Linked DNA regions of Homo sapiens: regions 2, 3, 4, 5, 6 and 7 are each linked to region 1. The links come from fine-mapping of genetic effects on gene expression. A gene starts in region 1. Each other region holds a variant in brackets. All regions are shown on one strand. Distances are between the middles of the regions. Region 1 holds the start of ZFAT (zinc finger and AT-hook domain containing). Region 2 overlaps ZFAT (zinc finger and AT-hook domain containing). Region 3 has its middle 250 kb from the start of LINC03024. Region 4 overlaps LOC124902071. Region 5 overlaps ZFAT (zinc finger and AT-hook domain containing). Region 6 has its middle 96 kb from the start of NCRNA00250. Region 7 overlaps ZFAT (zinc finger and AT-hook domain containing).

Region 1 (4,402 bases):
ACCGCTTAGGTGGACTTCCCTTTTGGGTCTTTAAAAGTTTCCATTTGCCCCAACTTCTTTGGACGTACCTATGATCCAGCATAGCGCATGTATCTAAATTGCAATCCCCTATTATTCCCAAATAAACTACAGTTTCAGGATCCCATATCCAAAATGCTTGGGACCAGAAGTTTTAGAATTCCAGATGTTTTTGGATTTTGGAATATTTGCATATACATAGTGAGATAACCTGAGGATGGGACCCAAGTCTAAACATGAAATTTATTTATGTTTGATGTGCACCTTATACACACAGTCTGAAGGTAATTTTACAATATTTTTAATTTTGATCATGAAACAAAGTGTACAATGAACCATCAGAAAGCAAAGGTGTCACTATCTCAGCCACACATATGGGCAATCTGTGGTTGTCTGGCATCGCCATCATTCCCGACTCTGAATTTCTATGCTACCAATAAGACAATCACTTTCTTACATTTATTTACACATAAGTCCTTACCAGTAAAAAATATGACACACCATTAATACAGTGAAAAACAAGGTGTTCAAGGTACCTAAGCGGCACAGCAGCATCACCAGAACACATGCATCAGCTGCTAAACAACAGAACAATAAACAACGGCTGGCTTTAAGTCTGCTGTTCAGCCTGCATTTCTTTCTGAGTGTTAACAGCATCGTCTTTACAGTTGTGCAACTGTTGTTTTGTTTTGTTTTTTGAGAAAAATAGAGATGGGGTTTCACTACACTGCCCAGGCTGGTCTTGAACTCCTGGACTCAAGGGACCCTCCCGCCTCAGACTCCCAGAGTGCTGGGATTACAGGCGTGAGCTACTGCGCCCGGCTATGGAACTGCATTTCTGCTGAGAACCTTCACGAGGTCAGATAGAAAATTTTCCACTGTGGCCTCATGTCAGTGCTCAAAGTTTCAGACTTTGGAGCATTTCCGATTTCGGATTTTTGGATTAGGGATGCTCAACCTGTATTTGGAGAGCAAGTCTCTCCGGTGCTCATTTTAGGCTAACCTAAGACAGCACACCTGAATCAGCTGGGCACCACAGCTAATCAGCGCACCTGTGGTCACAGCTACTTGGCAGGCTGAGGCGGGAGGTTTACCTGAGGGCGGGAGGCAGAGGTTGCAGTGACCCGAGATTGCACCATTGCACCCCGGCCTGAGTGATAGTGCGGGACTCTGTCCCAAAAAATTAAAAAAATTAAATTAAAAAAAAGCACGCCTGATATAGTTCGGGTCTCCTGACCCAATATTCGGCTCTGGGCCCACTCTGTCACTCCAGGACACATTCTCCCACATCTAGCACCGCAGCAGGTGGAGGCAGGACTACGACTGGGACTGCTCTTTACCCCTGCCTGGCGTGCAGAGGGGATCCTTGCAAAGCTGTTATTTGAACTAAAGTCAGGAAAGGTGTCCCTGGGGGTTAGAGGTAGGACACGCTACTTCCTTCAGCATGGGGACACACACTACAGATGTTTCAGTAGATGAACTGGTAGGCTCGGAAGATAAAGCTGGTGAGAGGCAGCTGTGCGGGGCATCTCCAAAAGGTCACTTGGACTCCAGCAAAAAAAGCCAGACTGATGGGCAGGCGTGATCAGTTAGCGCGTTCGTTCTTTCATTCACTAAGTATATAGTGAACACTTACATGAGCCAAGCCCTATTCTAAGAAGATGGAGGTACAAGTCAGGCGAGCACGCAGGAGTTTGGATTTTAGCCCAAGTTGGAGGAAGTTAATTTTTAAAGCCCCAGCTCTGTCGTTTTTAAACTGTGTAAAGTTGACCTCTCTGAACTTCTGTTCCTCATAATAAATGACCTACAAATTAGAGTTCTCAAGAGAGCTGAGCAGCAAAACGTGTTAAGTCAGTGCCCAAATGTGGAAGCTTGTGGTAATTACAGGTGAAGGACCCCAAGCTCAAGGTTAAATGACTTGCACCGGGTGTCAAGTGGAAGATCTGTCACTCTATTAGGTCCAGCCGGCGGCCGGGAAGCCTGCAGGAGGTACTCATTTCGCCAAGGAGGAATCCGAGGCCAGGCAAGAAGGAAGCCCCGCCAAGGTCCAGTCAAAGAGCTGGCATCGCCGGGATTCGAACCTCGCGCCCACTGCGTTCCGTCGCTGGCCCGCGCCCCAACGCCACCCATTGCCGTGGAAACGGCCGGGCGCATGCTCTCCCACTCGCTCCCGCCTTGCTTTTTTTTTTTTTTTGCGGCGGGATACCCCAGCGACTGAACGTGAGCCGCAGAACGCAACTACGTTCGCTCTCCTCCCCAGACCCGGATCCCTCCGCGGCCGGCGGCCGGCGGCCGGCGGCCGGCGCACTGCTTCCCGACTCGACGCTCGAAACGGCTTTCCGCGCGCCGCGCCGCGCCCCACCCCCACCCCGTCTCACCCCAACCCCCAGCCCGGCTCACCTGCCGCCCGCGTCTCCATGGCAACGCCCCACCGCGGAGGAAAAAAAAGCCTCGGGCTCTTCCGGGCCCCCTCCCGTGCCGACCGAGGGGGCGGGGCGCCCTGCTGACGCTTCGCTTTTTATTTTTATTTTTTTAAGAAAAGAGCCGGCGAGGTTATGGCGAATCTGCGGCATCCAACATGGCGGATGGAGTCTTCGCCCTCCTCCCCACGGGGCGCAGACGCCTGCGTAGCGGACGTCCGCTTCGGGTGACCCTCCCCCGGCGCCGAGCGCGGCCCGGCAGGGCCGAGCTAACGCGCATGCTCGCAGTCGGAGGCCGTGCTTTTTATCCCACTTCACGGATTCCGCTGCGCCGCGTTTTGAGCCACGCCCAGGGAGGGGCCCTCGGGAGGTCCGGAGCGCGGATCTCGGGGTCAGGAGTCTGGCGGTTGTGCCAGGCCTCTGCTAGCGCGACCCTAGACCCGCGGCATGTGGGGCCGCCGAGCTGGGCGTGCAAGGAGAGTTCTGGGTGCGCTTCGTGTCCCAGCTCTACCTCTCACTACCTAACTTGGGGCAGCGAATTAACTTTTCTTGCTCTCAGTTTACTGATGTGTCCATCGGGGTGCTCCCAACCTGCATCCCGCTCAAAGCTGCGGCGTTTCCCGAAGCGTGGGGTGCTTTCCTTTGGGCCACCCGGCTGGGTTTTAGGGGCTACAGAGCACTGAGCGGCCTACGATCACACGTGACAAGGCGACTTCCTCCTCTCTCGTCTCTTTTTGTCCCACAACAAGTCTGCACTGGATGTGCGCGCCTCCAACACCCGCTCATTCATTTCTCTGCTTGTGGCACAGCCTTCGGCAGGCAGCTGAGTCTGGTGGAAATTTAATGACTTTGTTTTTGGTTTTGATGTTAAGGTGTTTAGCTCCAACACTGTAGTCCTCGGCTCAAATGATATCTTCCAGCCCCTAACCCTCACCCCCCGAAACCCATCTAAAGTAACCCTCCAAGACACTTCATATTTTCTACGTAGCATCCATTCCTATCTGTCATTATCTCCCTCCCTTACCTCTGTCAATGGTCACCCCGTTAGCCTCAGAAACAAACTGAGCCTGACAGTTATTTATTTCATGAGTAATGAGTTGATGTGGTCCATGTTCTAAGGTCATTTTCTGTTCATGACAAATAACGTTTTTCACTTACAGTAGTCATATAAAGTTTTTAAATTGTTCGTTTACATTTTCAAAAATCAGTCAACTTAAAATGGTGTACATGCTGCAAAGACATGCCCCCCCCCCCCCAAAAAAAAAAAGTGTAAAAGCAGACTTCAGGAGACTGAAGTTTGGGAAACTGATTTGTGTTCATGGTTCCCCTGAAATGCTAGTCTTTGCCTGTTCTTCTTTTCCTGGAATAACCCTCTTTGGTTGCTGCTCAACATGAAATTCTCGGACAGCCCTGAAGTTCACACTTCATGTTCCCACAGCTCTGGTCTCACTGGCCTAGCTCCATCCCCCACTTCTCTGTTTGCACAGCGTTCATCCTCACTAGACTGAGCTTCCTGAGCAGCCCTTATAGGTCCTTTTCATCTTGTTTTCTCAGCGCCTGTTGCATAGTCATATTACTGAATGAACACTTCGTTCTGGGGTCACTTATTTTTTAGGAGGAAAACTCCCTTGGGCATTGAGCTTCAGGATGACTCATCTGATTTCTCAGGAGACTGCCCGCCTGCTCCTTAACCCTGTTCTTGGGAAATACGGAACCATGAAAAGACCCTAAAGTTGTCCAGTCTGTTAAATATATGCTCACAGATATAGCCTCCCCCTTCTTCATTTCATCCTCGCAATCTGGAAGGTTAAGTTGGGCAATATGATTATTGTCCTTTTCCAGATGAGAAAATGGAATGTTCAGAGTGGTCAAATGGCTTTCTGAGATTACACAGCAAAATAGTGAAGAGCCAGGTGTGGATCTCGCCTCTCCATGCCCAGTGTTCCTCTCCCCACCACATCTAA
Region 2 (4,402 bases), 210 kb before region 1:
ACCCGTTGTGCTGTCCATCCGGGGCAGGGGAGCTCTGTCCCAGAGGCCTGCAGCTCCTGTGGTAGGGTATGCACTGCCAGCCTGGAGAGCATGAGGCTGCTCAGCACAAGTCACACCCAGGGCAACTGGGCCCCACTAGCTCAGCTTCCCAACATCTGATCTGGAATTCACGGTTTTGAATGCGTATGAAGCCTCTAAAATGTACCAGGCCCTGAGCCAAGTGCTAGAGATCCCAGAGATGGGTGAGACCAAATTGTCACCTGCTCTCATGGAGCTTCCAGTTTGCTGGGGGGAAAAGCCATGTGTATAACCAACCACACTAGATATGGTTTGTGACACAGTTCCTAAGAACTGTGACGGGGTGAGGGAGGGTACTCCTCCCCGTGGCCCCATCTTCACCACTGCCTGGAGAGGGAGGAGAGCTTCTGCCCCTCTGAAAATATTCCCTTCCTAATTGCCCCCTCAGGGCAGGAAGGACCTGACAATCCAACAGCTGAAGCTGACCACCGGGTCTAACCTGATGTGTCCTAACGGGCAGGGGTTATCCTGACATGCAGGGACCCCCGCCCCCATAGGTCGTGCTCCTTCTTGGAGTGTTTGCTTTTATGCAGAGGCAGCTGCTCCCGGATCTTGCGCCTCCCACAGTCAGCACGGGCGGGGTAGGTCTTCTTGAAACATCCCACCATGAAGCAAGAAGGAAAGTGGAGGGAAAGAGGTGGGCACCTTGCTGTCAGGCCTGGTGGGCGATGGAGAGCTTCTATTCTAAGTTTACTGGAGACGTTCTGAGTTATTGGAGGATTTTAAAGTAAGGGTTGCTGTGATGTAATGATACTTCTAAAAGATCGCCCTGGCTTCTATGTGAAAACTGCATCTCAGAGCAGCAGGATGGAAAGAGAACAGCATCCTCTGTGAGCCAGAGGAGGGGGACTGACAGCTGAGAACAGGCTTCTAAAATTCTAATGTGCAGGATGCCCCTGCTGCTGGTTACACACAGAGCCTGATTTGGTAGGGTTGGGGTGGAGCCGTGATGCCCCTGCTGCTGGTTACACACAGAGCCTGATTTGGTAGGGTTGGGGTGGAGCCGGGATGCCCCAGCTGCTGGTTACACACAGAGCCGATTTGGTAGGGTTGGGGTGGAGCCGGGATGCCCCAGCTGCTGGTTACACACAGAGCCTGATTTCGTAGGGTTGGGGTGGAGCCGTGATGCCCCTGCTGCTGGTTACACACAGAGCCTGATTTGGTAGGGTTGGGGTGGAGCCAGGATGCCCCCGCTGCTGGTTACACACACAGCCTGATTTGGTAGGGTTGGGGTGGAGCCGTGATGCCCCTGCTGCTGGTTACACACAGAGCCTGATTTGGTAGGGTTGGGGTGGAGCCGGGATGCCCCAGCAGCTGGTTACACACAGAGCCTGATTTGGTAGGGTTGGGGTGGAGCCGGGATGCCCCAGCTGCTGGTTACACACAGAGCCTGATTTGGTAGGGTTGGGGTGGAGCCGTGATGCCCCTGCTGCTGGTTACACACAGAGCCTGATTTGGTAGGGTTGGGGTGGAGCCAGGATGCCCCCGCTGCTGGTTACACACAGGGCCTGATTTGGTAGGGTTGGGGTGGAGCCGTGATGCCCCTGCTGCTGGTTACACACAGAGCCTGATTTGGGAGGGTTGTGGTGGAGCTGGGATGCCCCCGTTGCTGGTTACACACAGAGCCTGATTTGGTAGGGCTGGGGTGGAGCTGGGATGCCCCCGTTGCTGGTTACACACAGAGCCTGATTTGGTAGGGTTGGGGTGGAGCTGGGATGCCCCCGTTGCTGGTTACACACAGAGCCTGATTTGGTAGG[G/C]TTGGGGTGGAGCCGTGATGCCCCTGCTGCTGGTTACACACAGAGCCTGATTTTGTAGGGTTGGGGTGGAGCTGGGATGCCCCCGTTGCTGGTTACACACACAGCCTGATTTGGTAGGGTTGGGGTGGAACTGGGATGCCCCCGTTGCTGGTTACACACAGAGCCTGATTTGGTAGGGTCGGGGTGGAGCTGGGATGCCCCCGTTGCTGGTTACACACAGAGCCTGATTTGGTAGGGTTGGGGTGGAACTGGGATGCCCCCGTTGCTGGTTACACACAGAGCCTGATTTGGTAGGGTCGGGGTGGAGCTGGGATGCCCCCGTTGCTGGTTACACACAGAGCCTGATTTGGTAGGGTCGGGGTGGAGCTGGGATGCCCCCGTTGCTGGTTACACACAGAGCCTGATTTGGTAGGGTTGGGGTGGAGCTGGGATGCCCCCGTTGCTGGTTACACACACAGCCTGATTTGGTAGGGTTGGGGTGGAGCTGGGATGCCCCCGTTGCTGGTTACACACAGAGCCTGATTTGGTAGGGTCGGGGTGGAGCTGGGATGCCCCCCGTTGCTGGTTACACACAGAGCCTGATTTGGTAGGGTCGGGGTGGAGCTGGGATGCCCCCGTTGCTGGTTACACACACAGCCTGATTTGGTAGGGTTGGGGTGGAACTGGGATGCCCCCGTTGCTGGTTACACACAGAGCCTGATTTGGTAGGGTCGGGGTGGAGCTGGGATGCCCCCGTTGCTGGTTACACACAGAGCCTGATTTGGTAGGGTCGGGGTGGAGCTGGGATGCCCCCGTTGCTGGTTACACACAGAGCCTGATTTGGTAGGGTCGGGGTGGAGCTGGGATGCCCCCGTTGCTGGTTACACACAGAGCCTGATTTGGTAGGGTTGGCGTGGAGCTGGGATGCCCCTGCTGCTGGTTACACACAGAGCCTGATTTGGGAGGGTTGGGGTGGAGCTGGGATGCCCCCGTTGCTGGTTACACACAGAGCCTGATTTGGTAGGGTCGGGGTGGAGCTGGGATGCCCCCGTTGCTGGTTACACACAGAGCCTGATTTGGTAGGGTCGGGGTGGAGCTGGGATGCCCCAGCTGCTGGTTACACACAGAGCCTGATTTGGGAGGGTTGTGGTGGAGCTGGGATGCCCCCGTTGCTGGTTACACACAGAGCGTGATTTGGTAGGGTTGGCACGGAGCTGGGATGCCCCCGTTGCTGGTTACACACAGAGCCTGATTTGGTAGGGTTGGCATGGAGCTGGGATGCCCCCGTTGCTGGTTACACACAGAGCCTGATTTGGTAGGGTCGGGGTGGAGCTGGGATGCCCCCGCTGCTGGTTACACACAGAGCCTGATTTGGGAGGGTCGGGGTGGAGCCGTGATGCCCCCGTTGCTGGTTACACACAGAGCCTGATTTGGGAGGGGTGCGGTGGAGCCAGCGACTCTGCATTTCTCACAAGCCCCCTGATGCTGACACTGCTGGCCGGGGGACTACGTTTTGAGTAGCAAGGGCTTAACTGAAGGCGGTAAGGCCGGGGGCCAGAGGGACATTTGAGGCCCCTTGTGAAGCAGGAGGCCACCACATGTGCTGACAGGGCAGACGTCCGGTGGGAGAGGCAAGGAGGCAAGAGGCCCTCCACCAGCTGGGGACACCAGATGGATAGGAGGAGTAGGAAGGAGGGGGACACTAAGAGTTCTTGTTTCCGGGAATCCCTCCGGCCAGGATGGAGACTACTGTTCTGGTGGGAATGAAAAACAAGGGCCAGCCTGAGGCAGGACAAGTCTACAGAGGGCCCGCAGCGCTCTCCTCCATATGCGGGACAGCTCTGCCTCACTCCCGTCAGGGCTATTACAGCCTGGCCTTGACCCCAAACTTGAAATAGACCAAGTGATCTCAGCCAGCAAGGACAACTTCCCAGGGTGAAGCTGCCTGGAGGGGAGATGTCAATTAAAACCGACCTGCCTTGGCTAAGGACATGGGTCAGGAAACAGGCACCAAGCAAACAGTAATAAACTCAGCAGTATTAAAACTCAAATAAAGTGGGATTCTGCAAATAGCACCAACCAAGGCTGTAGCTTCTTGGGGCATAATAACAGAAAGATGGGGACTTAGGAAAAGGAAGAAAAGTGAAGTTGGATAGATGAGCATACTCAGGTTAGCTAAGGATGGCTTGCATGGGAAAAAGGCACCATAATGAAACAGAGAATAACCTTTGTTCTCTATGTTTTCAGACCATTTCTCATATGGCCACAGATATATCATGGGGCCTATTTTTACTTTAAAAATTTCACAAAGAAATGGAATTTTCTGTAACTACTATGGTGTAAGAGAGCTCAGCAAGTAACAAAAGAGCTTTGGGAAAGGATGCAATGTGGAGTAGCAGCCATCCAAAGTCATACCAGAAGCAGAAGTCTCTGAAAAAAGTTTTAGTTAAGACAAAGAAAAAGAAAAGGTTCAAACAACCACAGGAGAACTAGGAAAGGCCTACAAAGGACAAGAGCTGGCATTAAGTGACAAGGGAGAGTAACCTATTGCCAAGACTCTGAATGAACTTTTTGTTTCTGAATCTACA
Region 3 (4,402 bases), 780 kb before region 1:
CAGATCATCAGGCATTAGATTCTCATAAAGAGTGTGCAACCTATATCCCTCACATGTGCATTTCACAATAGGATTCATGCTCCTATGAGAATCTAATGCCACTGCTGATCTGACAGGAGGTGGAGCTCCAGTGGTAATGCAAGTGATGGGGAGTGGCTGTAAATACAAATGAAGCTTTGCCCACTCACCCACTGCTCATCTCCTACTGTGCAGGGGTTGGGGACCCCTGGGCGAGAGATTGGCAGGTAAAGGCACTGAGACACCAACACTGTATAGTGTTCTTCAAAAGGATATCAAATTTTGACTGCATAGATTTTTTCTTTTTGTTATATATTTCCCTATAGCAAGCATGACCATCCTGTTTCTGCTGGTCGGCTCCTGTGAATCTCTTACAATTGACTATTTCTTCTAAATTCCATACACCACTTCTGATAGTAGCAAATACTTTGGCCAGTTTCTTTGCTGTTAACATTCTTGGTGCCTCAGGTATAACTTCTCCTCCCTCTGCCTCAACTTCTTTACATTTTTTTTTTCCAGTTCAGTCTTCCAGGTCATCATTGGAAAGCTCTCCAGCCTCAATGCCAACAAGCTCGTGAGTATCCTCTTCATCATTGTCCAACTCTAGCAGTTCCCAAGCAGTAATATCTTGTGTTTGTTTTACTAATTTCATCCACAGCAGAATTTTTGTTAAAGCCTTTGAATGTGTTCACATATGTTTTCAAAACTGTCTTTCAAAAGCCATTTATTCATTGCTGTGTGACTTCTTCCCATACTGCAGTGATATTCTGGACAGTATTTAGGATGTTAAAACCTTCCTAAAACTCAGATTCAGTAAACTTCAGATACAGCCAGATTCAGTCACTTCAACAGCCTGCACAAACGTTTGGCATAAGTAGTGTGCTTTAAACACAGCTATTGTGCCTTGGTTTGTTGGTTGAATCAGTGCGGTTGTGTATGTGTGGTGGCAAATGCACAACTTTCACAGCAGGATGCATGTCCCCAATATGCTGTGGATGCCCTGGAGTATTGTCTAAGATCAGAAGAATCTCGAATGAGATGTTGTTTTGCCTACAATATTCTCTTGCCTGTGGAATAAAACTGTTCAAAACCAGTCTTCAAACAATGCAGATGTCACCCAGGGTTTCTTGTTATAGAGCTAATAAAGGGAAATGCATACTTGCTCACGTTTGTGAATGCTCTAGGGTTCCCCATGGTAGATTAGGAAAGTCTTTTATTTGCACCTTGCAATACTTCCATCCCAAAGCAGCATTACACAGTTCTTGAATGCCTTGATCCTGGCATTGTTTGGACTTTTGATGAGTGTATGTACTCTCCAGCATATGCTTCCAGAACAAGCTTGTTTTATTGACATTAAATATTTGTTTCAGCAAATATTTCTAATTCACAATTACCCTCTGCAGCCCTTTCTTAAGAGCTTCAACACCTTCAGTATTGGCACTTGCTGCCTCACTACTGACCTTCACGTTATAAAAATTAAAATGACTTACGAAGGATTGGAACTGCCCGTGCCTTGCTATAAGCATGTTGTGTACATGAGGTCACTGAAACTCTCTTTTAGTGTATTGAAAACACTTCTTGCCTTAGTCTGGACCATTAGGAGAATAAGTGGTGTGGACTTCTGTATCTGGTCTTCTGTCCACATGACAAGTAATTTTTTCATATCATAAATCTGCTCAGCTCTTTTCTTCATGGTGATGATGGATTTAACCAATGCTGACAATTTCACGCATTACTGATTTACTTCTTTTCCTTTAAGACGGCC[G/A]AGATAGTGGATTGTGAAAGTCCTAACTCCTCTTGCACTGGTCATTACTGGCTTGCTGCCTTTATGCCAGGCAATTATCTTGAGTTTCATCTCAAGAGTAATTGCCTTTCTTTTCTTCTCACCAGAAGCAGGAGATACAGATGGGCATTTTGTAGACATGATGGGATGTGAAAACACTAAACACTGTTTACCGCTCTGATCCTGTGGCTGACTGGGAGCTGTGGCTTGCTACAGCATCATGGCAGAGTAATGCTAGCACAGGAAAAGATCAAAATTCAAAATGTGGTTTCTAGTGAATGCATATCACTTTTGTGTCATGATAATGTAAAAAAAGTCAAGTCAAAACATCATAAGTTGGGGACCATCTATAGTCTGTTTTATAAAACCTTTATAAAATTTATTTCTCTCCATTGACCTCGTTAATATTACAAGAATGTTACCTGAATTCCACTCACACCCATCTAACCTCTAACCAGATTAAGAAATAGAACAATCCTGGAATCCCATAAACTCTTCTTAGGCTGTGACCTGCTACTCCCTCTTCCCAGAGGCAACCACAGTCCTTGCTTCTCTTGCTCCAGATTAATTATGCTGGTTTATAAACTGTGTATTAGGTTATAATATGGTATCCACTTATTATACCTAGTGTTTTTCCCTAATGACATGACTATGTACTTTATTATGTGGTTGTATGTAACAAAGTTTAACTCATTTCCATGGGTGTTTTGTTTCCCATTGTATGGACATAACATCATTTGTTGATCCATTTCTTATGACAGACATGTGGGTGGCTACCAGTTTGGGGCTTGTCATAGGTCGTGTTTCCTAGAAGCATAACTTAAGACAGGAATTCCTGTACAAGTGATTCACTGAGAAGCCGTTTTTAGAAGAAACCAGTAATGAGGTGAAGGAAGCAGGATGGGGAAAGTTCTGTGGCTAGGGGAGAAGCTAAGGGTAAATGTGGGTTCAGGTAAAGCCCAGCCCCAGTCTGATCCTGTAGGAAGCTCTGGAGCATAAATTCCACCACGGAATCTGGCCTGCCTTAAGGAAAGAGAGTGAGGCTTTTGCTTTCTCCAGTGGTCAGTCCTGGCTCCGGGCCACCCAAGGTGGTGCATATGAATTTACCTCTTAGGAAGTTTTGGGGAAGGCAGTCCCAATTGCTCAGGGCAGTGCTCTGAGGAGGTTGCAGGTACAAGCCATTGACAGTGGCCACTGCAACAGGAAAGCAGATGACATCCGGGGGTCATTTTTAACAGCGTCCACTTCAGCTGATATAAAACATGCTGCTATTGGGGTCAGGACTAGTGTGAGGCAAGGGAGGCACCTAGGGAACAAAATTTAAAGAACCAAGCACCCTCAAGGCTCTGCAAAGTGCAGGATCAGCACTTACATGATCCTGAGAATGACAGCCTATTTCAATTGTGCACCCTAGGTGCCTTGCTGACCTCACCCTAGTCCAGGACTTGCTGCTATGAACACTTTGCACTTCTTTAGTGCATATATGCCTATGCATCTGCTGGATATAGACTCAGGAGTGGCATTGCTAAGCCATAGAGTATGTGGGTATGTTTATATCCAGCTTTAGTAGATATGGCCTAACAGTTTTTCAAAAACGGTTGTATCAATTTTCACACCCACTATCAGAGTATTGAATTCCAGTGCTACACATTCTTTGTATTTTCAGTTTTTCTAATTTTAGCCATTCTGGTCAGATATATTGTTATCTCAGTGGGTTTAATTTGCATTTTCTTGATTACTAGTGACATTGAACACATTTTCATATTCATTGATTATGCATTGTTTAGTGCTTTTGTTTTTTATTCGTCCAATTGTGTTTGTTCTCTGATTTTTATTGATTTATAGGAGGGAGAGAGAGAGAGAGAGAGAGAGAGAGAGAGAGAAAAGACAGAGAGCATTATCCTGGACACAAATTCTTTATAGATAATATTTATTGAAAACATCTTGTTCCCACCCTGTGGCTTTCTATTTACTCATTTAATGGCATCTTTTGATGAACAGAAGTTCCTAATTTTAATATAGTCCAACTCTTAGCAATCTTTTTTTATAAGGTTTTCTTATTTTTGTGTTCTGTGTAAGAAACCGTCACTACCCCGAGGTTATGTATATTTTAATTTATCTTCTAGAAGTTTTATAGTTTATATTTAAATAAATTTTTATTTTACGGTAGCCTTAGATTTCCAGACAAGCTGTAAAGATAATGCAGAAAGTTCCTATGTATTCTTCACTCAGTTTCCCCTATGGTTAGCATCTTATATTACTGTGGCACATTCACCACAGCTAGTGAATCAAATACTGATGCATTATTATTAACTAAAGTCCTTACTTTATTGAGATTTTCTTAGTTTTTTCCAATATCTTTTTTTTTAATTTTTGAGACAATGTCTTGCTCCATCACCCAGGCTGGAGTGCAGCGGCATGGTCTCAGCTCACTGCAATCTCTGCCTCCCCGATTCAAGTGATTCTCCTGCCTCCGCCTCCTGAATAGCTGGGATTACAGGCACCTGCCAACACGTCTGGCTAATTTTTGTATTTTAGATGGGGTCTCGCCATGTTGTCTAGACTGGTCCCAAATCCAATATCTTTTATCTGTTTCAGAAT
Region 4 (4,402 bases), 47 kb after region 1:
GAATTGTAGCAGATATGTCCTGGGGCTGGAGCTGCCAGTGGCAGTGGCTGCCTCCTGGTGATGCTGGTTTCTCTCCCTAGTACAGTCATGGTCCCGAGGGGACCAGAGAGGGGAACAGCTCTCTTGGCAATTCAGATCGGCATTGTGGCTTTGGTTATTGTGCCTGCAAGCTCAACAGAGATCGATTTCTTCAACCCTTTCAATGATTCTGCAACTGACTGCTGATCAATCTGAAGTCAAATCTTCTGATTTCAAAACCTATATTCTGTCCTCAACACCATGTGATGACTAGCAGACTTGAGATTCCACGAACTCAAATGAACTAAATCAAGAGAAGGAAAAAGTATTGAAGTTGCAAGGATAAATGAGTTCAGTTTTAGACATAGGAGCTTGATGTACTAGTAAGACAGCCTGAGACCATCCAGCAGAAATGTGAGGGGGATTGGCTCTTATTAGCCTGGGGCTAGGAATGTAGATTTGGAGTTCTTTGCTAGAAAGCATGATCCTGGGTATGATCACCCAGGGTGAGTGCAGGAAGAGACCAGGACTACAGGTAAGAAAAAAGATACAGTGGAAAAAAACAAAACAAAACAAAACAGTCATTTGGGAATAAAACACTTGGGTTCAACTCTCCACTTTACCTCCTACTAGCTGTGTGATGTTGGGCAAATTACTTAACCTCTCTGTGCTTAGTTTAAGAGTCAGCACTAAGCATCTTGCTTTACTGGCTCCAATCTTTGGTTCTGTTTTGGGGAAGGTAGAGGAGGCTTATTGCCTAAGCTTGTTGTCCCTAGGCTTGTTGCCTCATGTTTGCAAAATGGCTTTTCATGGCCCTGGCCATTGTGTCTACATATAACCATGTTCAAGACAGAAAGAAAAGAAAGACATGGAATGGAAAAGCTGGTTTTCCTCCTACTAGGAGACAACTTGTCTCTGGCAACTTATCAGCGAATGTGTTCTTATATCTCATTGGCCAGGGTTGGGTTACAAGACCACCCTTTGTTGCATGGGAGTGCTGGGAGAGCAAATGTTCCATCAAGGATTCCTTTGACTGATACTGATCATGATCCATCCTGATCCGTGGCACATCACTGCCCCAAATAAAAGCATGATGTGGTGGTCCACCTCAAGGTGGGTGCTCCACCTCAGGGAACCAGTGATGTGGTGCTCCACCTTTGGGGCAATGATGTGCCATGAATCATGATGGATCCAGGATCCATGATCCACAGCCCATCACTGCCCCAAATAAAAGCAGTCATGTTAGCAAGGGAGAAGGGACTGACTATTGGAGTGACAAACAGCATTGTCTATCAAAACTCATGAAAGTCTTTCTTTAGGGAAAGGTATAAATTTTGAATGCTAGAATTCAGACACGAGGCAGGACTCATCAATAGAGGAGATGGCTTTACCAATGCTATATATTTGTATAGCACTATAAAGTTTATGAAAACTTACACAGGTTCTTATTTGACCCTCACAACGGACCTGGGAGGTAAGTCGAATTTTCATTTTGCAGATCCAGCAAGAGGGACTCAGAAATCATTAAGTGAGAGAAGGGTCAGGCCTCATTCTGGGCCAACATTCTTCCTACTGAGCCAGGTAGATTTGGGACCCCCATGAATAGGCAGCTACCTTGATGTAAATCCCAGGTTACCTCTTCTTCCACCACTGAAAGGCCTGGAACCCCAAGATTCCTATTATCTGGGACATCAAAATTCTGAACAGTAGTAAATTGCCAATTCAATATTGATAGTTTATAGCAAATCAAACCTTTGGTGGAGGGAGGATGGTGGTATTGAAAGAGAGTTGTGGTTTAGTATATGACCATAGGCAAAGAACATAATTATTCATTTAGGAAAAAAAAAATCAAGAAACAAACTGAAGAGTTTCAGGAAACTCTACAACTGAATTCATACTTAGAATTGAATTTTTAAAATAACTTCCCAGCTGGGCGCGATGGCTTATGCCTATAATCCCTGAAATTTGGGCGGCTGAGGCAAGTAGAT[CA/C]CCTGAGGTCAGGGGTTTGAGACTAGCCTGGCCAACATGGTGAAACTTCTACTAAAAATACAAAAATTAGCTGGATGTGATGGCAGGCACCTGTAATTCCAGCTACTCGGGAGACTGAGGTAGGAGAATTGCTTGAACCTGGGAGATGGAGGTTGCAGTGAGCCAAGATCATGCCACTGCACTCCAGACTGGGCAACAGAGCAGGACTCCGTCTCAAAAAAAAAAAAAAAAAAAACAAACAGAGGCCGGGTGCGGTGGCTCATGCCTGTAATCCCAGCACTTTGGGAGGCCAAGGCGGGCGGATCACAAGGTCAGGAGATTGAGACCACGGTGAAACCCCGTCTCTACTAAAAATACAAAAAATTAGCTGGGCGCAGTGACGGGCACCTGCAGTCCCAGCTACCCGGGAGGCTGAGGCAGAAGAATGGCATGAACCCAGGAGGCGGAGCTTGCAGTGAACCGAGATCATGCCACTGCACTCCAGCCTGGGCAACAGAGGGAGACTCCGTCTCAAAAAGAAAAAAAAAAAAAAACAAACAAAAAACAAACAAACAAACATCTTCCCATGGATTATAAGCAATGCAAAATGCTAAAGAACATCCATAGGGAAGAAAGTCAGAACCAGACCATTGATTTGGTAAACACAACAATTCTATTGGCAGGCCCAGATTACAAGGGATTAGAATGAGAGAGGACCACACTTACCTCATTTCTATCTGTTCTCTGTTGGAGAATCACTCAGGAATCACCCAGAAGACTAGATAAAATTGTCAGTCCTCTCCCATATATTGGAGAAGTTGCAGGAGTGGCGGGTGAGTGGGGGTGTGAGTGTGCAGATTTCTCAAGTACCCACAATGTGCAAAGCAGTACTAAATGCTGGGAGGAATAAAGGTGTGAATGAAAGTATCCATTCATTGATTTATTCAGTAACTATTCATTAACAAACATTTATTGAGATGTTTTATGTGTGCAGCATTGGGCTAGGTTCCAGGGATACTTTTCAAAAAGCAGTCTAATTGGTGAAGGAAGGAGGGGGATGGGATTACAATGAGAACATACGAGAATTTTAAATAAACATCTGCTCAAAGTTACAAGACAGGTGCTAACTGCTGTAAATACTAAGGGGAAAAATTCCAGCTGGATCTGGGATCCAGGAGAGGCTTCTTTCCTAAGTAAGCTGGGAATTGAGCTTGGTCTTAAAGGATGGTTAGGATTTTGATAGTATGGATGAGCAGACACCGGAAGGGATCACATGTTATAGTCTTTCCTGGTCTTTTATCTTAGAGGAGACAAACTGCCTATAGCAGATGTCAACAATGCACACAACTCTCCATAGTGAGACAAAGAGCCTGGTATGTACAGAAAGCCCTGCTGATTGGTGTTTCTCAAGCTCAAATCATTGTACTTTATCCTTTCCACTCCACAAATATCTATTGAGCCCCTACTGTGGGCTGAGCACTGCATGAGGCACTGAGGATACAACTATGAATGATACAGGCACAACCAAGACCTTCAAAGGACTGAGGGTATGATGGGAGGGAAGACAGAGCAAGCATTTGTGATACATGCATCTAGAGTTATGACAGTGGAAGAATGAGGGCTATGGAAACACATAGTAGGGGAGCTTAGCCCAATCTGGATTTTCTGTGCAATAAATCACAACAGGCCAGGCATGGTGGCTCACACCTGTAATTCCAGCACTTTGGGATGCTGAAGCCGGCAAATCACGAGATCAAGAGATCGAGATCATCCTGGCCAACATGGTGAAACCCCGTCTCTACTAAAAATACAAAAATTAACTAGGCATGGTGGCAAATGCCTGTAGTCCCAGCTACTTGGGAGGCTGAGGCAGGAGAATCGCTTGAACCTGGGAGGTGTAGGTTGCAGTGAGCCGAGATCGTGCCACTGCACTCCAGCCTGGCGACAAAGCGAGACTCCGTTTCAAAAAAAAAAAGTAAAATAAAATAAATTAATTAATCACAACAATAAGCACTTATTTTTCAACAATAAGTCACAACAATAACCACTTATTTTTCAACAATAAGTCACAACAATATGCACTTATTTTTCTCATTTATCAGCCCATGATCTTTTGGGGAGCTCCACTTCAGGTCGCAGGTTGGCTAAACTTGATTCAAGGTTCATATTAGGGCCAGATCCCCTCCTCATGTCTTCACATTTTTTCTGGACCAGCAGCTATTCAGTTCTCTCTCTCTTTCTCTCTGTATGTGTGTGTGTGTGTGTGTGTGTGTGTGTGCAAATGTGTGCTTTCCACAGGACCACAAGAGGCCAAGCCAAACTTCTCAAATACGTTTAAGGCCTTTGTTTGTGGCCCATCTTACAACACTCCATTGGCCAAAGTAAGTCATGAGCTAAGTCCAACATCAAGTAGGTT
Region 5 (4,402 bases), 55 kb before region 1:
GCCCAAAAGGTGGAGGTGGCAGTGAGCCAAGATCACGCCACTGCATTCGAGCCTGGGCAACAGAGTGAGACTCAGTCTCAAAAAGAAAATGAAAAAAATAAAAATTAAAATTTCTCTCTTATCTACAACTCATTTAGAAAGAAGAGAATCTTAATAAGCAAAGAACTAAAAGCTTTGCAAGAGCCAGTCTAGAAGTTCTTTCCACCTTGATCCACATGGCTTCGATCTGCCATATGAATTGGACAAGAGACATTATCCATTTTTCTGAGTCCATATACATTCAACCCCAGAGGCAGGTACCCAGATGAAACCCTGTCTCTACAAAAAATACAAAACTTAGCTGGGTGTGGTGGCGGGCACCTGTAGTCACAGCTGCTCAGGTGGCTGAGGTGAGAGGAATGCTTGAGCCCAAAAGGCGGAGGTGACTAAACACAGTTCTTGACTAAAGCCCTCTCTGTGAAGCTATACTCTTCAGAAAGCAAGTCACTGACTGCTCAGCAGGGAAGTGGGCCATGGAGAGTGTGGGTGTCACAAAGCTTCTGGCCAGGGGTCAGGACTCACACAGGCTGGGTGGGCAGAGGGAGGGCGCTGAACTGCAAGGCCCCTGGCACCAAGGAGGTTCTGACTCTCACTGTCCCATGCAAACTTTCCTCCTCTACCCCAAAGCAAAGGGTCTCAAGTGTGCGCTACTGGTTGAGACGCAATTACACATAACTTTCCTCCTCACTCCTGCTTCCTCTAAATGGGGAGAGGACAGGTCTGCTCACAAGGCCTGTGAGGGGCTGAGCACGCCATGGACACACACCCTATTAGCTGACGGTGATGACAGAAGTAAGAAATACTAACTGCTGCTCCTTATTCACCCACCACTAGCTTCGGGTGCTGCATCTTTTTCATTTTTCACTTTATGCCACTAACAGTAACTCTCAGAACTTCCTAACTTCCCAAAAACTTAATCTTCTGTCAGGCATGTTTCTCTGAGAACCCTGGGAATGACCAGAGGGACTTATTAACCAAAACATTTTTTGTCTGGAATCTCTCCTTGTTAATGGTGTCCGACAGATGATGAATAGCCAGCCTATTTAGAAATGCCAGCCTGAATATTCCCAGGAAAGAGCCAGTGGATTATTAGTGTGGCTGATGAACTCTGCAATGGGACACTGACTGCTATGCATTGGGCTTCTGCACAGGTGCCCAGCTGCTGTCCTTTATCTTAGTGTTTTGTGAGGATCTTTGCAGCGGTTCCTCATGTGCTATATGTTTTCTCTGTCTGTGGGGACCTAATTACAGTGCCTGGATGGTTTCTCTGATCCGTGCACCTGCTGCATCGGATAACCACACAGTGACAGATGTCCAGACACTACAGACAAGATGCATCTCACTTTGCACGCTGACTGTGAACCCAAAGGATTCTGTGCAAATCAAAGCTTTGCAATGTGAATCCTTGTTCCAGGTTTATAGGAACAGTTGGAAAATGCTGTAAGATTATATAGACTTATTTATTAATCATGTACGTTAGAACAACAGCTTCCTTTTATCATGTTCTGTGTGCCAGGCATCATCTTAGGTCCTGTAGGCATATTCTTTAACTTCATCCTCACAGACCCCCTTGTAACCAGCATATTTCTCATCATTTGTCCAGATAAGCAAAGTGAGGCTTGGAGAAGTAACATCATTGGCTTCAGGTAATGCAGCCAGTAGGTACTAGGGCTGGGTTAAACCCACACTTGTCTGACAACAAGCTCATGTTTTTCACACTATTGAATACTGCCACTTCCATTCATTCTTTCATTCATTCATTTGCCAACCTACAGGGGGCTAGGTATGGGATTTCAAAGGCACAATCTTATTTGAGCATATCTACAATTGGAGACTTATTGTGACTTCTGATTTGGAAATGTGGATTTTCTAGGCTTCTGCTATGCCCACGGAGCAAATCAACATCAACAGGTGTGTCAGAAGGTATCCTGCCCCACCCCCCAGCCCCCTTACCATCTC[C/T]GGTTTTGCTTGAGTTGGGGGGTTCAGGTGTACTCAGAGGCCTAAGGGGAATAATAATCTCATCAACATTAACCCCTTCTTCCATGTGCTTCTCTGAAACGTGGGAGAGGAGTTCCGACTGATTTGGTGAGAAGAGGTTACAACATTTACACATAAAGATGGCCGTGTTTTCTGTAAGGAAAAAAAAGGAAAATATGTTATTTCATCTCCACATAAACAATTATTACTTCCAATTGCCAAAGACAATACCGAAAGCTGCCCTTCTGAGCCATCACCAGCCTCTACCAGATTGTGTCTCTCTGGCAGTCACCTCCATGGCAGGCCACTCACTTTCATCTTCAGGGAGATCCAGGGGCCAGAAAGTTCTTTATTCAGTATCTCAACCCTCAGTCCTTCTGGATAGTGTCTAATACAAACCTTCTTGTTACCCAAATCTACTCATCAGCCCAGATTCTGGGATAAGTACAGCCAAGTAAAAAATAAATATGCGGCCGGGCGCGGTGGCGCACGCCTGTAATCCCAGCACTTTGGGAGGCCGAGGCGGGCGGAGCACAAGGTCAGGAGATCGAGACCATCCTGGCTAACATGGTGAAATCTCGTCTCTACTAAAAATACAAAAAATTAGCCAGGCATGGCAGCGTGCACCTGTAGGCCCAGCTACTCGGGAGGCTGAGGCAGGAGGATGGCGTGAACCCGGGAGGTGAAGCTTGCAGTGAGCCGAGATCACGCCACTGCACTCCAGCCTGGGCGACAGAGCGAGATTCTGTCTCCAAAAAAAAAAAAATTTGCAACTTAAAAAACTAAATCCTACCCCTCAAATGACTGAACTGCACACTGATGGCAATTAAGCAGTCTTGCTAGATTCTCTCAAATTACGCACAAGGAAAAGTTGACCACAATAGCATTTCTCAACAGCCCAGCACCTTTCAATGAAACGGCAGGAATTTGTTGCCTTTTTAAAGCCACTGAATTCCTATTTAAAGCACTCTCATTGTTCAAAAAATTTACCAATAGTTCATTATGTTCATCTCATTATACTAGGCAGGAAGACATAATAAGGGAAATAAAACACTCACTTTTTAGACTGATAAAATAATTATAGGTATATACAAAATATTAAATTCAGGATTCAATAACAATTAAAAGCCAGATCTTTGTATTATTATTTTTACATTCAGACTGAAAGGAAGTGGCTTTGTCCACTGAAAAGGACAATGGCTTTGGAGCCAAAAGGCCCAGGTTAAATTCCCAACTCGTCCCTAAATGCTGGAAAGCTGAGGACCTCAGAGAAGCAGTCATCTGTCAGTTGCTGGAATCCATAGGAACTTTGGGGATGGAACTTGCCTATTCAGCAGCAAGAACCCAGCAGACACTCAGAAAGCACAACACTGACTCGGCGCAACTCTGCACCCATGGTGTGCCCTCGCCCAGCAGCTGGACGGCTGGCAATCCACACCTGGCTCCCTTCGGCATCCCCCTCACCAGCCTCCTGGGGAGGCTCAACGCTGCCTGGAAGTCACATGCAACTTCTACGCCATTTACTGCCTGGTGATGCTGGACAAATACATGGCAATCATACAAGCTCTGCGCTCTCTGGTGATGGTGAGCAAGTATCTCATCCTCCTCGCTCCTCACTCTCAACAGCTGACCTTGCTTCATATCTCACTGCAAGCAGCCAGAAAACAACTGCCTCTGCCACCCCTTCCAGCCCGCCTGCGTCTTCAGCTGTCTCCCCACCTCGCTCCTGCTGGTTTGAAGGTGGGCATAGTGAGGGGGACACAAGGTGTGCGGGTGAGAGCAGTGGCCCACCCCAGAGCAGGGCTATCATATCTCTGATATTGTCTGGAATTGCTGGTTCATGGAGATACTAAAAGCAGACCAACACTTCACTTGTGTGATCATTACTTTCAAATTCTCTAAAGATAGCGCATGCCTGATTGCCTGCACCCAGGAAGATGCTCCCACATCCCTGTGTGAGAAGGCTACTAGACAAAGGGTGCATGATGGCTTGTGCGTGCAGAACTCACCCTCTCTGATGATTGTTCTCCAGGTCATCAATTCTTCCCTCTGTACTAGATCTTTCCATTGGCCTATAAGCATACTCTTATTCTCCCATCTTAAAATGAAAACAACTCCTGATCCCCACTCCCCCAACCCATTTCTCTCCTCTTTACAGTAAAACTCTCCTACCAGAAAGAGGAAATGAGGAAAGGCAATAGGCCAACCCAGCCTTGCTGGCATGAAGGTGGAGCTCTTGGAAGGCACTGGAGTCCCAGGAGCAAGCCCCTCCCTGGGTTCACAGAAAGACTTTCTCCGTGAATTAGCAGGGAGGTAACGACCTGAGAGAATTCTTTCCTACCAACAACACATGAAATCAAAATTTAACAAAGCAGAACATTGCTTC
Region 6 (4,402 bases), 220 kb after region 1:
ATTGTGACCAGTGGATAAACATTCTTAGAGACATACTTGGAAGCATACAATTACAAAATAGTGTGTAGTAAACCTGCTTTAGGCTGTCCTGAATATTTTGAACACTGGGATGAGCTAATTTAGGCCCCCAAATCTTAGTAGCTTAACACAACAAAATTTATTTCTCATCAATGTTGCATGTCCATCATAGGTCATCTAGGGGTTCTGCCTTACTCTGGGACTCAGGTTGGTAGAGAGGCTGCTGTTCGCCAGTGACTATGACAGGAAAGACAAAGAGCATGATGAGCTTTGCACTGCTAAAAGTAAGACTGTCATCCATTTCTGCTTGTTTTTCAATGGCCAAAGCAAGTTGCATGGGCATGACTCTTTTCAATAGGGACAAGAATGTGCAATATCCTATGTAACCAGAAAGAAACAGAAACATAACATATGTGTAAGCAGCACTAGTAAAGTCGCTGATTTTGTTTTCCATTTTTGAAGAATTTTCTACTTTTTGAATTCTATCTTTCTAAGATTAAATTCAGAAACTCACTATGTTGGGTAAAATAATGGCCACCCAAAGATGTGCAGGTCCTAATCCCCAGAACCTATCAAATGTCAACTTGCATGGCAGAGAAGACTTTAAAGATTTGATTAAGTTAGTGATATCAAGATGGAGGATTATCTTGGATTATCTTGGAGGGCCCAAAGCAATCACAAGGGTCCTTATAAGCAGAGGGAAGCAAGAGAAGCATATTCAGAGGAGACGACATAAGGATGGAAGCAGAGGTCAGAATGATGTGAAGGGGACCATGAGCCAAGGAATGCAGGCAGCCTCTAGAAGCTGGAAAAGGCAAGTAATGGGTTCTCCCTTAGGGCTTCCAGAAGGAACACAGACTGCTCAATATCTTGATTTTTAGCCCATTGACACTTCTGACGTTGAGACTGAAAGAAAATAGATTTTTGCCATGTAAGCCACCAAGTGTATTATTAGGGTAGCAATAGCAAACTAATATACTCACTTTTCATGGTTCCTTTAAAGGTAGGATATAGTACATGGCCCAGTTTCTATTCCTCAGAAGGAATGACATCAAACTTGGATTTAAAAGTGGGACATAAAGAAGCAGACAAAACTTGAAATCCATTCTAGTGATGATGATGAAGAGACATTCAGGTTAAGGGGTGGACCTCTTGACTGTAGTAAACATGGTGTTAGTCAAGGTGACCATGTTAGGCCAGCAACACTGGGACTCCATCAGAGCCATCAGTGCAGTAAATAAGATTTTGTTACTGGATATATAGCCTTCAGGCATGATTTTAGGGCCCTCTCAGAAATTCTTTCATTGTCTAAGTTTCCTTTAATAAAAGACTGAATCAATTCTGTTGTTCGCAACTGAGAGCCCTGACAGATAGAGGTGTTTCAGTCATCTTTGGTTGCATCACAAACCACCCTCACATTTAGTGGCTTAAAACAATTAGTGGCATATTACTATTCATGATTTTCTGGGTTTATTGGGCAACTTTTCTTCTTCACGTTGCCTTGCTGGGGTGCTGAGAAGGCTTCCCTCATGTGGAAACTCAACTGGGAGCTCAGTTGGGGCTGGAACTTTGGGGGTGTCTAGAAGGCTGGAATCGTTGAGAGGCTTGACCAGAGCCTAGCTGGAGTTGTCAGGCAGGGGCCACAGTTCTCATTCATGTAGCCTTCTTGACGTGGCTGCTTGGGCTGCCTCATGACATGGTGGCTGGGTTTCTAGAAGAAACTTCTGAGAGGGAGGAAGCAGAAGTTGCCAGGCTAAATTACGGGCTAGCCCTAGAAAGGTTACAATGACAATTTTGTTATAATCTATTAGTGGGAAGGGACTCTATGAGGGCATGGATTCTGGAAGAAATAGTTCCTTGAAGGGTTACTAGGCAGCAGCCTACCACAGCACGGGATACATGCTCAAAGGATTATGAACTGTGAGAGCTAGAGGAGAGAGTGGCTGACTCTGCCTAAGGAAGGCAGAAGCAGCTTCATAGAGGAGGCGGCACTTGGGAAATAGCAATGCCTTGTCCAAACTCACAGAGGGTAAAAGGTTTTGAGGTATTTAGGGGGTCATGTTTTAGTCCAATTTTGGCTCTCGGAATATACAGTGAGCCATATGTGGGGTGAGTGAGAGGCCAAAT[A/T]GAAGGTGGGAGAGGCATGATGAAGCCACATTAAAAGCCACCAGTGCCTGACAAGGTGTCTATGACAGCTTGTAAGTAACAGAGAGTTTTAAGTAGAGAAGGGGTATGAGCAGATCTTTGTAAAAAGACTGAAGTGACAAATTAAATAATATACTTTACTTTTTTGTTTACATTTAATCACATTCTTCTTTTCACTCCATTTGAGACACATTTGGTTTATTTACCCAATAACAATAAATAAACACCTTACATTTGTCATGTGTTATAATGTGCAAGAGACTCTGTCTACTACCATGACTTCTGATTCAGAGCATGATGCAAAGAGTTCATCAGAATTGATGCTGCCCTCATTTCACCAGTATTCAGTCTTTTTCGCTGTGTAGAAATCAGCCATAGACTCCCACTAGTATAAAACAATGAGTATTTATTCCCTTTGTTCATGGGTTTTCTGATTGACTGTGGATAGGCTGATCTTGGCTAGGCTCCGTAGGGTGGCTCTGTGGGACTGGCTGAGCCTTGCTCCAGCCTGCAGGTTGAACTCAGTTCTGGGTCCTGGGCTGAAGGAATAGATACTGCACCTCAGGGAAGCTCAGGTCAAGGCAGATCACCAGAGCACAGAAGTAGGCTCAATGGCAGCCCAATCTCATCTCAATTCTCCCCTCCTGTCATGACAGCTAACATTCCGTTCCCTAAGGCAGGGCACATGGCCGAGTCAAAGCAAAGGCATGGCTAGGGAGGGTGAATGCAGAGTACTTGTACTGGGGTCTGAAGAACTGGATCCAATTCAGTCTGCCACTATGGAGAAAGAAATTTCAGCTTGAAGAAATTAAGGTTATTTCCGTGGATTTTATAGGACCTAAAGGTAAGTCTTTTGAGTCAAAACTACTTCTCCATTCATTACCCTGCCCTGTCACCAAACCAGATCTCATGAAAACCTCCAGTAGTATTTATCCTTCTATGTCTGGCTTATTTCACTTAGCATAATGTCCTCCAGCTCCATCCCTGTTCTCACCACTGGCAAGATTTTCTTATTTTTAATGACTGAATAACATTCCACTGAATGTATATAGCACATTTTCTTTATTCATTCGTCTTCCTGTGGACACTTTGGTTATTTCTATGTATTGGCTATTGAGAATAACGCTGCAATAAACATGAGAGTGCTGATAGTTCTTTGAGACCCTTATTTCAATTGCTGGGTATATAGATCTAGAAATGGGATTACCAGTTACTACAAAAGAAAGACACAAGTAAAAAAAATAAAGGGAGCAGGAGGACACTCTTGGAGATGATGCGTATGTTTATGGAATTGACTGTGGTGATGATTTCGCGAGTGTATACTTAATCTAAAGTCATCAGGGTGGCTCACAACTGTAATCCCAGCACTTTGGGAGGCCAGGGCAAGAGGATTGCTTGAATCCAGGAGTTCAAGACCAGCCTAGGCAACATAGCAAGGCCCTGTCTCAAAAAAACAAAACAAAAATACAACTTATCAGGTTGTATACATTAATTATGTACAGCTTTTGTATGTCAATCATACCCCAATAAAGTTGTCTAAAATAGAAGAAAAAAAGAAAACCTCCAGTGACACATTTTTCTCTAATCTTGTCTTTCTGTTTCTGGAGGTTTAGCTGTTTTCAAACTACAGAGCATGAACAACGACAGCTCACTATTTATCCCTCTGGGGGACCCCTTCTCTCTACAATCAATTCCACACCCCATTCTTGAGATGACACATCTCTCTGCAGGCCTTTGTCTACTCATCTGTAAAAAGATTAATTTTTCTGTCACATGTCTGTGGGGCAGCAGCTTCCTCCATACACAGGAACCATTTTGTTAGCTTTAGCAGGCTGCTCCGGAGCCTCTTCCTTGCAGCTCTATCCTGGACCACAGGCAGTGAAGTGATGGTGCTGTCAGAAATATAAGTCTTGTCCCAGGCACGTGCAGAGACGAAGGTGGTCTGCAGAGGAGAGGAAAGTCTTGCGCTGAGGGCCTTGGGCCGCTCAACCTTTTGTGGAGTATTATGTTTGGGTGGGGTCACTATAAAGTGGGGAGTCGTTCCTTGGGGTGATTGTGGGGTCAGGAGAGGCTCAAGACTCTGAGGCACATTTAGCCTGGGGATGAGAAAACTCGGGAGTGGTAGCTTGCCAGGTGTCGCTGTCAGCAGATTTAATTCATTTCAACAACCATCTCTTGAGCTCTAGCCACATGCCAGGACCTCTGCCAGGAACTGAGGTCTCAGAAGTGCACAGGACAA
Region 7 (4,402 bases), 220 kb before region 1:
ATGCATCAGAATGTCCCTCACAACCAAGAATTGTTCTGTTCTCACCATGACTTCTAAATTTTTCTCCCAAACAGTCACAAGGATAAAAATAAACAATAACAACAACCTTATTTATGATGATCTGAACCTAGAACCTAACTGTTTCACATGTAAACACAGAGTACTGAGTCTGTGTGCTGCATTCTTCTAGAAATACAACTTCTGTTTCCAGCAAGGGAAGACTGTACTTCATTTGCTCTACGAAAGCCCTCCGGCATCAGCGATGCTGCTCACACTAGTAGTCTCACCCTCAAGTCACAATGTGCTCTTGGCCTGTGCTTGTGGCTGGTGCACCCAGAGTGGACACTACGCTTAGGAGAAGGCACCTGACCACATTGTTAGGTTTTTATTTCATTTTCTTATTGTTGCTTTAACCAATTACTAGAAATTTAGCAGCTTAAAACAACACAAATGTATCATTTTTCAGTTCTAGAGTTCAGAAGTTTGAAATGGGTCTCACTGAGCTAAAATCAACATTTCAGCAGGGCTGTGATCCCGGCTGGAGACTTTAAGAGAGAATCCACTTTCTTGGCTTTTCCAGCTTCTAGAGACCCCTGCATTCCTTGGCTTGTGGCCTGCTTCCATCTTCAAAGCCAACGACATTTGGTGGAGTCTTTCTTACGATGTCATCTCTCTGGTTCTGACCCTACTGCCTTCCTCTTCCCCATTTAAGGACACGTGTGATCACACTGAGCCCATGTGCATAATCCAGGATAATCTCCCCATCTTGGATTCAGCTAATTAGCAACCTTAATTCCCGCTTGCCATGTAAAACTTAACATATTTGTAGGTTCTGTGGATGAGGACGTGGACATCTCTGGGGCACCACTGTCCTGCCAACCACTGTATCTTGGTATAGTCATGTCTGAATATTAAAATACTCAATTTTTTATTTTATAATTAATAACTTTCCATTTACTTCTTGTTATTTCAGTTAGGACACTAGAGTTTTTTTGTTTTTGTTTTTGTTTTTTGTTTTTTTTTTCAGTCATGCATGTGTAGGAATCTATGAATTTCATTTCAGGTGAGTAAAAGGAGTGTTATAAGGTAGTCATTATTCAAGGGGAGTCCTGGGTCCATCGGGCTGAGACTCCACGTGCTACGGCAAGCAACTGCCCTCCTAGGAAGAGCTGCCCTGCTGTTGCCCAGCCCTGCATGTGACTAGATGGCTCAACTGGTCTCCAATTCCTCTTCCTCTCCTGTTGTTCTCATTACCATCTGATTCACTCATGTCTTGTTTCTCAGATGCTTCCATACCTCGAGATCAAAGGAAAGCGTGCAATTCATTATTTCCTCCCAAATGGCCAACATCTTCTATGGTCCCTTCCACTCAGAAATTCGTAGACTCCATGTTATGGTAAGAATTAGAGGACTGCAGACAAAAGTCCAAATACAACCTAACAACAAGAATGAAAAAAGAATCTACCTGCAGTCGATTCTTACAGGTAGAATATTCCCCTGTGTGTGTTTAAGCTCTGGGGAAGAAGCCTTATTTTTTCCAGGGATTAGGGCTTCACTCACTGCTTAAATTATAACCAAGCAATAGCTTCCTTTTCATTCTCAAAAGGGGGACTGGCAGGACCATTTTACAAGGTTAACAAGTAAGGACATTTGCTTTCACAACCCTAGGTGAAGAGTGGAGTTGTATAAGTCAGAAACAAAGGGAAACAGCAAACACAATCCTGAATTTATAGAGGAAAGAAAATGCATAAATGAATGTGGTTTGTAAAAAACATCATAAATTCCTAACTCCAGAAATATATACCTGCACAGGACAAAAAGAAGGGTGTTCTGAGGGGGCAATATGTGCAAGAAACTTGTGGAAATATCAGGAGATATTCACAGGCAGGAAGAAGCCATTCCATACATCAACGGAGATTTAAAGCCTTTTAGGGAGGAAAGAATGCACAGGAAGTGAGGAAGGCCATGATTCATCCCACTGTCAGGCTAGACACCTTTCATGGAGGAAGACAGTATAATGCTGCCTCTCCACCCTATTTTTTGTCTTGGTTGTAAGTAGACAGCAGACATATTTTCTTTCCCGAAGGTATCAATCCCATGCACAGTGCAAAGCCTAAGCTGTAAAGGCCACCTGCTAATGGCAGTCACCACCCATTTCCTGTGTCACCTGGGTCTCTGCAACACTGAGACTCCACTACCGGCCAACACAGCTGCAACCCTGTTTCCTAAGCCCCAGGCACTGGAGAGCTCTGCTGCCACCTGCAACACGGACTTGTCCACCAGGTCCCTGGGCCTGAGGGGAACGGGAAGGGCCAGCTCTCTTCATTGAGAGAGAAGGGCCTTCGAAACAGGCTGAGAGGAGCAATGCAGGCTTCCTGGCCTCAGTGCTGTAAGAAGAGGATGAAAAGGTTTCCATACTGGCCAAACCAACTCACTGGGCAACAGAAAGAGGATGCCCATGACTAGAACATCTTGTACCTCTTGCATGTCTCGGCAGTCTAGGCATTGCTTAGTTTGATCTGAATAATCATTTGACTAGAAAAGGAAACCTTCTCTCGTAAATTGTGGGAAACTAGAGAGCTCCACATGGTAGAGAGAGTGCATGGGAATGAAGAGACGGCGGGGCAGGGGGCAGTGCCTGGCACAGGGCAGGTGCGTGAGGCACGGCACTCATGACTGCTTCTGGATGCCGGCCCTCCTTGGAGGAA[C/G]GGTCTGCTGCCCCCTTCCCTCCCCGGCTGAGCCAAGCTCCCATGCACTTAAGCTGCTGCCCGTGTGCTTCACATATCCCCTCCACACCATCATGCCATGGCCATATGGCACCCAGCTTATAGTAGGCACTCAATAAACACTGAATTGAATTATTCAAATGTGGACCCCAGGAGATATTTCAAAGCTGTGCTAAAACAGTTCAGAGCAGATTCACTAAGAAAGGGAAGGAGGCAGGCAGAGTTCCCCCCTCCTCACAAATATCTTTTGATATTTAGACACATTTATTGTGCATAATACTTGACTTTCTTCCCCTTTAAGTGCACATACACTGAATCTCTATTTGATTTAGTGCCAGGCCTGGCGTGGCAGCTCTACAGCATTGCCCGGTCCTCACACAGGGAGCACTCTCTTCCCTACACATTCTCCTCCCTCCACACCCCTGCCTGGTGATCCCTGCACAGCTGTGCGGCTGTTGGGGTTGGGCAAACCTTTCAGCTTTTTCTCACCCAAGTCCCCTCCACTGTACTTTAGGAGTAGTTTCCTTTGTACATTTCCACCTGCCTGACTTTCACAAAATCACCCCCGTGACCATCCTTGCAGGCCCCGGCCTTTCTCTTTGCTGGTGGCTTTGTCAGCCTGAAGGGCAGCAGGTGCTCGATAAAGCTGCGGGGACAGGATCGATCCGCTGCCCTTTAGTGGGCCATCTCGAGGACACTGTCTCGGTGCCTGCTGGGGAAGCGCCTGGCTCCTTTCCTCAGCTGACGCACACTCTTCTCCCCCTAATTAAGCAATCTGCTTCCACTAGCAGTTTCTTTCCCAGTACTTGAACATGAGTGACCTGAAGCCTCCACGGAACCCCACCAGGGCCTTGCTGGTAACCGAGCAGTGAAGGAAAACGGAGCTGGCAGGACCCAGGTCGTATTCCTCCCTGGATAACCACAGAGCAACAGCCCTTGCCCAAGGTAGAAAAACCAAACTCCCAGGAATAAAGTGTTTTTATTTTTTGTTTAAAATATGTTTATCATAACAAAACATAAACCATTTAAATCACTCATCAAACTTATCGAGGTAAGTTCATTAGTAGCAAGTACATCTAAGAACAGAAAAAGAAACTATCTCTTCTTGTTTTGAGCACCAGTGAAGCTTTGACATTCACCCTACTGGTGTTGACATGACAGTCTCCGATCTTATGCTGAAACCCCAGAAAGACACCAGCTCCTGCTCTTCAAATCCACATGACCCACGTACTTCTCTCTCAGAGTAGGAAGATCTACTTAATTCTACTTAATTCGACTCTCTTTTGGCCTGGTCTTAAGTCTCTCTCACACAGAACCACCACCTGCCCAGCTCCCCTGACTTTGGGCAATGTCCCTCAGCATCTGCAATTCCAAAGCAGCCTGGTCTCAGCTCAGGCTGCTGTCACAAAGCAGCACAGGTTGAGTGACTTATAAACAACAGAAATCTATCTCCCATAGTTCTGGCGGCTAGAAGTCTGAGATCAGGGAGCCAGCATGGTTAGGTTACAGTGCGGGCCCCTCTTCCAAGGGCAGATTATTGACCTGTAATTGTGTTCTGACATGGTGGAAAGAGAGAGATCAAGCTCTCTCCTCTCTTATTAAGGCACTCATCGCATTCATGGGGCTCCACTCACACGACCTAATCATCTCCCAAAGAACCCATCTCCAAATACCAT

Evidence for each region.
Region 2: its variant is fine-mapped to the expression of ZFAT in transverse colon (GTEx, PIP above 0.99). The same link has a PIP of 0.9 or more in esophagus muscle, lung, prostate and subcutaneous fat.
Region 3: its variant is fine-mapped to the expression of ZFAT in gastroesophageal junction (GTEx, PIP above 0.99).
Region 4: its variant is fine-mapped to the expression of ZFAT in whole blood (TOPMed, PIP 0.95).
Region 5: its variant is fine-mapped to the expression of ZFAT in whole blood (TOPMed, PIP 0.94).
Region 6: its variant is fine-mapped to the expression of ZFAT in whole blood (INTERVAL, PIP above 0.99).
Region 7: its variant is fine-mapped to the expression of ZFAT in sigmoid colon (GTEx, PIP above 0.99).

The regions. Positions count from the first base shown.
Region 1 is chr8:134,710,427-134,714,828 of GRCh38, forward strand. It overlaps ZFAT (zinc finger and AT-hook domain containing), which reads right to left and starts at 2,605. Exons shown (of 16, transcript NM_020863.4): 1 at 2,419-2,605. The coding sequence starts at 2,437. RefSeq lists an enhancer at 2,437-2,616.
Region 2 is chr8:134,496,424-134,500,825 of GRCh38, forward strand. The region is part of intron 15 of ZFAT (zinc finger and AT-hook domain containing); the gene reads right to left. Among named protein-coding and RNA genes, the nearest start is that of ZFAT, 210 kb to the right of the region's middle. RefSeq lists an enhancer at 4,085-4,402. The variant G/C (reference allele first, on the strand shown) is at 1,836.
Region 3 is chr8:133,927,849-133,932,250 of GRCh38, forward strand. No RefSeq gene overlaps it. Among named protein-coding and RNA genes, the nearest start is that of LINC03024, 250 kb to the left of the region's middle. The variant G/A (reference allele first, on the strand shown) is at 1,784.
Region 4 is chr8:134,757,749-134,762,150 of GRCh38, forward strand. All of the region lies in intron 2 of LOC124902071, which reads left to right. It also overlaps a transcript of ZFAT not described here. Among named protein-coding and RNA genes, the nearest start is that of MIR30B, 41 kb to the right of the region's middle. The variant CA/C (reference allele first, on the strand shown) is at 2,007.
Region 5 is chr8:134,655,569-134,659,970 of GRCh38, forward strand. It overlaps ZFAT (zinc finger and AT-hook domain containing), which reads right to left. Exons shown (of 16, transcript NM_020863.4): 2 at 1,993-2,169. Among named protein-coding and RNA genes, the nearest start is that of ZFAT, 55 kb to the right of the region's middle. The variant C/T (reference allele first, on the strand shown) is at 1,999.
Region 6 is chr8:134,931,885-134,936,286 of GRCh38, forward strand. No RefSeq gene overlaps it. Among named protein-coding and RNA genes, the nearest start is that of NCRNA00250, 96 kb to the left of the region's middle. The variant A/T (reference allele first, on the strand shown) is at 2,146.
Region 7 is chr8:134,491,018-134,495,419 of GRCh38, forward strand. All of the region lies in intron 15 of ZFAT (zinc finger and AT-hook domain containing), which reads right to left. Among named protein-coding and RNA genes, the nearest start is that of ZFAT, 220 kb to the right of the region's middle. The variant C/G (reference allele first, on the strand shown) is at 2,709.